Regions from separate parts of the Homo sapiens genome. Here region 2 is linked to region 1. Evidence: fine-mapped expression QTL. A gene starts in region 1. The other region holds a variant in brackets. All regions are shown on one strand. Distances are between the middles of the regions. Region 1 holds the start of LINC01572 (long intergenic non-protein coding RNA 1572). Region 2 overlaps ZFHX3-AS1 (ZFHX3 antisense RNA 1).

The links. PIP is the estimated chance that this variant, and not a neighbour inherited with it, causes the effect. A credible set is the group of variants that fine-mapping cannot tell apart.
Region 2: its variant is the best candidate, but not a certain one, in a credible set for the expression of LINC01572 in prefrontal cortex (CommonMind, PIP 0.79).

What each region holds. Positions count from the first base shown.
Region 1 is chr16:72,663,560-72,666,486 of GRCh38, reverse strand. It overlaps LINC01572 (long intergenic non-protein coding RNA 1572), which reads left to right and starts at 1,517. Exons shown (of 14, transcript NR_126330.2): 1 at 1,517-1,595. ZFHX3-AS1 (ZFHX3 antisense RNA 1) reads right to left here and starts at 1,354. Exons shown (of 4, transcript NR_171704.1): 1 at 1,154-1,354. RefSeq lists enhancers at 1,556-1,615, 1,656-1,775.
Region 2 is chr16:72,768,070-72,770,996 of GRCh38, reverse strand. The region is part of intron 3 of ZFHX3-AS1 (ZFHX3 antisense RNA 1); the gene reads right to left. Among named protein-coding and RNA genes, the nearest start is that of ZFHX3-AS1, 100 kb to the right of the region's middle. RefSeq lists an enhancer at 1-265. The variant T/C (reference allele first, on the strand shown) is at 1,129.

The sequences.
Region 1 (2,927 bases):
AACACTGACATCCAAAGGATACTCGGGTTCATCTGAAGGCCTCTTGGGCTTCTGCTGAGTTGGTTTGATTTTCAAATGGTCTATGTAGGCAGTAAGCTGCTCATGGAACATTCTCTTTTGAAACCCTGGGCATTTTTTGATCTCTTACCCATTTATCAAATCTCATCACATTAAATGGCTCCACAATGCAGGTGGCCTGTGTTTTCCTAAGTGCCTCCTCTTCTTAAGAATGTATTACTCAGTTCATTAATGTTTCATACTTAAGTATTCTGTGTATTTAATTTTTTATTTAATGAAATTTCTAACCTTCAGGCTGACGAATTATTCAGAATGTTTCATCCAAGCTGTTGGAAAAGTGCTCATTAGCAGGGAGTTTTGAAGATGGAATTTTAAGAAAGGGGTTGGCAGGATCCCAAACACATATAGATCTAAGCTTTCATAAATGCTTCCCTACCTTAGCTATGGAGGAAGAAATTGTTGATAAGCAGATAAGTTTTGCTTTAGTTTTTACATTTTAGTGACAATAACAATGATTTCTGTGGTCTGATAAAAGATGTTCGTTTAAAGAGTTATCTGCAGAAAGCTGTGTGGTCACTAATGTTTACTTTCATTGACAAATGAGATCGTCTTGTGTGGGACTATCATCATCAAATGAGACACAACTGAAACTAAAGCAGCCATGCTTACCATTCGGTTTAAAATTTTTAAAATTAAAATAATGCTCCTAACGAAAGGAGTCTCAGCTGAATTAGTTTGAGTGTTGGCATGGACTGGGCTCAAATCACCTGCTCATCTTTAACACCTGCCTTCAGATTTATGGGCGATTAAGAACTTAAGTCTGAGAACCTATGAGACTGTCACAGAAAATAAAATTTCAGTTCTTCGTCCATTAACTGGTTCAGATGAAATTTGGGGTCAGAAACAACCAGAACGTTAAATTTCATTGTAAACTTAAATCGCATTCAATGGTTAAAGACTACAAAATGTATGTAGTGCAGTTAAAAAACCTCACACAGCAAGAGGTTATTGAATGTTTAAAGATCCAAAATTTCAACTTTTTGTGGTTAAGTACAGTTATGTTGGGTAACAAAGTTGACAGCAGGTTTCTGTTACCCCCCTGTTGGAGGAGGAGGAGGCGCTACCACACGCTTACCTTAGGGAAATAACGTGCACTTTATAACCGTTCAGGTAAATCGTTGGGTGAGAAAGAAGAATAAAGGACACAGCCGGTGGAGGGACCCCAGCACACAGTCCCGTGGGTGCTCCGGAGGAAACGGCCGCAGCCCCAAATCTCCTAGTCTCTCTAGCAGGGAGTTTTCCCGCGGAGTCTCGCCTGGCGGCCGGAAGCCACCTCAAGCCGCCCACCCGGAAGCCGTCGTCTTGGCAACTGGGTATCGTCCCACCCCCTTTTCTTAGCAACGCCTATCGCCTTAGACGTCTGAGGTCAGCCGAGCCTCGATTGGTTCCTCTGTCTTTCACTCTGGGAGACGTTTGAGACCCAGCGTCTCTAGATCTCGTATTTGAATTTGTGGCGCTTGGTGTCCGCGAGTTGCCGAATGAAGCTGAGCGTCTCAGTGGAACCAGGGATCTCAGGGGTGAGCGACCGCGAGGGGAGAGCGACGAAAAGGGCGGCCGGAGCTGGAGGGGCGCGGAGTTAAACAAAAAAGGGCGGCCGGAGCTGCAGGGGCGCCGAGTTAAACACGTCATTTCCAGATGGGGGGCTTCAGGCGAGCTGCTTAGCTCCCCTGAGGCAGGCCCTCCGTCTGTTCGCCTTTTCGTAGCCTCTGAGTTTTTCCCTCACGTCGTTTTCCGGCAGTCCCAGAGACGCCACGCCTGCCCCCGTTCTGTTGCCCCTGATGGAAGGCTCCTCTTAACGCTACCTTCCCTCTTTCACAAAATGTCTCTCAGCTTCCTTATTTCGACGTGCTTACACCTCCCCCAAGTATAATTCACTCCCCACTGATGTCTTTGGTAGTTTCATCCTCGTCTTCATCACTAATACTATGAGACACGGGGTGCGTGCACTTGACGATGTAGAAAAATGGTTTTCGCGCAACCTGGTGAGCGTCCCACACCTCACAAATTGAATCCAAAAAATTCCTTATTCATAAAAGATGCTGCTGTCCTACTCTTCCCGACCGGGAATATCATGACGTGGAAAGCAGCAAGTGACAGCGTTTTATAAAGCGCTACAAAAGTAAGCTATTGATGCGTTCACATCGGAAACATAATTGTTTTGTTTTCGGTCGGACCCTCTGGATCCATAGGTTTCGTATTGGGTTTATGGATACTGTTCAGACTTTGAAATGAATAATGCCAAAAGTTACGTTGGAGGACAAACTGAGGATTGATCCCAAGCACAAAAGTAACCACTGATTAAAACCTTCTCTTCATTAACCTTTAGCTTCTTTGTCTATTGTGATACTTCTCCCACCCCGGTGGATTTAATTTCCATTGAGATTTATGAACATTTTAGGAGTTTACAGTCTAAATAGACAGCTTTCCCCACCTCTCCTGTATATGACCATGAAAATCCTCTATTAACTTTCCAGTTTGATAATGCAGTATGAGCTTCTATATGCTTAGCCTCTAGAACAGAGATTCTTTTGGGGGTGGGGGGTCTTAGTCCTGTTTAAGACCCAGAGGAAAACCTTGGAGCTTTTCTCCAGAATATGACACATACACACAAAATTTTGTATTAGTTTTAGAGAGTTGTATTTTGTTTTAGTAGAAAAGAGATCTGACTTTGTTGCTCAGACTGATCTCCAGTGTCAGCCTCCCAAAGGGTTGGGATTACAAGCGTGAGCCGCCGAGCCCAACCCTGTTTTAGGGAGTTTTAGATTCTGTTTTGAAATGTGGATATTAGTGGGACCCCAGTCCAATTCTACACGTTTATTTATATATATACACACACGTATGTCTATATA
Region 2 (2,927 bases), 100 kb before region 1:
AGAGGACAGTAGAATAATATCTTCAATATGCTCTAATAAAATAACTACCAACATAGAATCCTATACCCAGAAAAGGATAATTTTAGAATAAAGGCAAAATAAACACATTTTTAAATGAACAAAAACAGAGTTTGCCACTTGTAGACTGATTAAAGAATGTACTTCAATTAGAAGGAAAATGGTCCTAGACAGAAGATCTGATACAAAAAAGACATGAACATTTTAAAAATATTGAAACTGTACATAGGCAAATCTAAATGAATACATATAGTATGAAACAATAACTGTGTAACTTGAAAAAAACTATATAGAAATAAAATGCACAACATTAGCATTTAGATTAGGAGAGGGTAAATGAAGTTAAAAATCTTTTAAAGTTCTTGTTTTGTCCAGGAAGTGAGAATAATTATTATCATTAGCCTTTATATGTAAATAATGATGGTTTTAAGTCTTAGGCATTTATGAATTTGTATTTAATACTCAAAATTACAAGGCAAATGAGAGGCGAATATTCCATGAGTTCAATACATGGTCAATAAATTGAGAAGGCATTTTTGCCATAGAGGGGAAAACAACATTCAGAAAAAAGATGAATATATTTTAATTTTCAAAAATTCATTAGCAAAATAGAATATATCCATTAGCCAAACTTCAAACTCTATTGTCTTTAACAACAACAACAAAAATCCTTGAGTACTAATGTTTTTACTTGCTTAAGTCATATTTATTTAGGTATAATCAACATACAGAAAAAAATCATCCTTTTCAGGTACACAGTTCTATGAGTTTTGACAAATATGTGTGTGTGTAATCACACATATTTTACTGTGTAATCACCAGTAAATATAAAAATAAATACTAAATTGTTTCCATTACCACCATAATGTTCCCTCCTTTGTTGTTAATGCCCTTCCAATCCCCAGCCTAGGCAATGACTAATCTTAATCTGTGTTCTTTCCCCGTAGCTATGCCTTTTATAGGATATAATATAAACAGAATTATATAGTATGTAGCCTTTTGTGTCTGGCTTTTTTCACTAAGCATAAGACTTTGGAGATTCATCTATGTTGTTACATGTATCAGTACCTCCTTCTTATTGCAAAATAGTGTTCCATTGTATGGCTATGC[T/C]ATGATTTAACTATCTGTTCATCAGATTATGAATATTTGGGTTATTTCCAGTTTGGGGCAATTTTTAATAAAGTTGTTATAAACATCCATGTATAGATCTTTGTATGAACATATATTTTCATTTCTCTTGAATAAATGCCTAGATGTGGGATCATATGGTAAATGGTAACACATAACCAGATAACACATAACTTTATAAGATTGCTACCTGTGGTGGACAGACTCTAAAATAGCCCCAAATTATCTTAGCCTCCTGGTATGTGTATCCTTGTGTAATACCTTTGTCTTGAGTCTGGGTGGAACCTGTAACTTGCTTCTAACCAATAAAATACATCAAAGGTGATGGGGTGTCACTCCCATGGCTGCATTACATAAGTTTGTAACTTCTCTCTTGCTAGTAGACTTTCTTCTCATCCTTCTTGGCTCTGATGAATTAAGCTGCCACATGGCACAGTCCAGTGGCAAGAAAATGAGGGCAACCAATAGGCAGCAATGAACTGAGGCTTTCAATGATAGAGGCAAGGAACTGAATCCTACCAACAACCACATGACCTTGAAAGAGGATCCTTCCCTGTTTGAGCTTCAGGTGAGACCCCAAGTGTGACTGACACCTTGATTGAGGCTTTGATAGAGTCCTTGAGGCAGGGGACTCAGTGAAGCTGCATCTAGATTCCTGACACATACAAACTGTGAGATAATAAATGTGTGTTGTTTTAAGCTGCTAAATATATATAACTTATTATGCAGCAATTGATAATACATTACCTAAATGTTTTCTAAAATGATGATACCATTTTACACTCCCACTAACAATGCATGAAAGTTCCAGTTGCTTTGAATACCACTAGAGTGATATTGTCAATTTTGTAAATTATAGTACTGCTAAAAGGTTTGTACTGGTATCTCATTGTGATTTGAATTTGTTTCTCTAATGTAGGAGTTCTTTGTATATTCTGAATGCTAGTGCTTTGCTAGTTATACATGTTGCAGATACTTCCTCTTACTCTGTGGCTTGCATTTTGTGTTCTTCGTAATGCCTTTTGATATGCTGACGAAGTTCCTAGTAAAGTCAAATTTATCAGCATTTCCTGCTCTCATAAATGATTTTTTTTTTTTTTTGAGACAAGAGTCTTACGCTGTCAACCAGGCTGGAATGCAATGGTATGATCTCCGCTCACTGCAGTCTCCAACTCCCAAGTTCAAACAATTCTGGCGCCTCAGCCTTCCAAGTAGCTGAGACTACAGTCATGTACCACTATGCCTGGCTAATATTTTGTATTTTTAGTAGAGACGAGGTTTTACCATGTTGGCCATGCTAGTCCCAAACTCCCAAGCTCAGGTGATCTGCCTGCCTTGGCCTCCTAAAGTGCTGGGATTACAGGCATGAGCCACCATGCCTGGCCTCATAAATGATTTTTTTTTTTTAAAGAAATCCCCCCTACCCCAAGGTCATGAAAATATTCCTCTATATTATCTTCTAAAAACTTTATTATTTTGCTAAAAGGGATTTTGGGTGTACAGTCTGCCTTAAAGTCATGCTACATAGAGGTCCAGTTTTATATTTTTTTCACACATGGATAAGGAGAAAAGATAGAAAATCTTTGTGACCTTAGGTTATCACAGATTCTTGGCTTAGTCACAGCAAGTAAATATCACAGAAGGAAAACTGACAAATTAGACTTGAAATTCAAAGCTTCTGCTCTTCCAAGTACATTGTTAATAACGGTACATTTAAGTCTTAAGCCCTTTTCTATATTTGTGTATTTTCTACAATAAAATGGATTTTAAAAAATAAAACA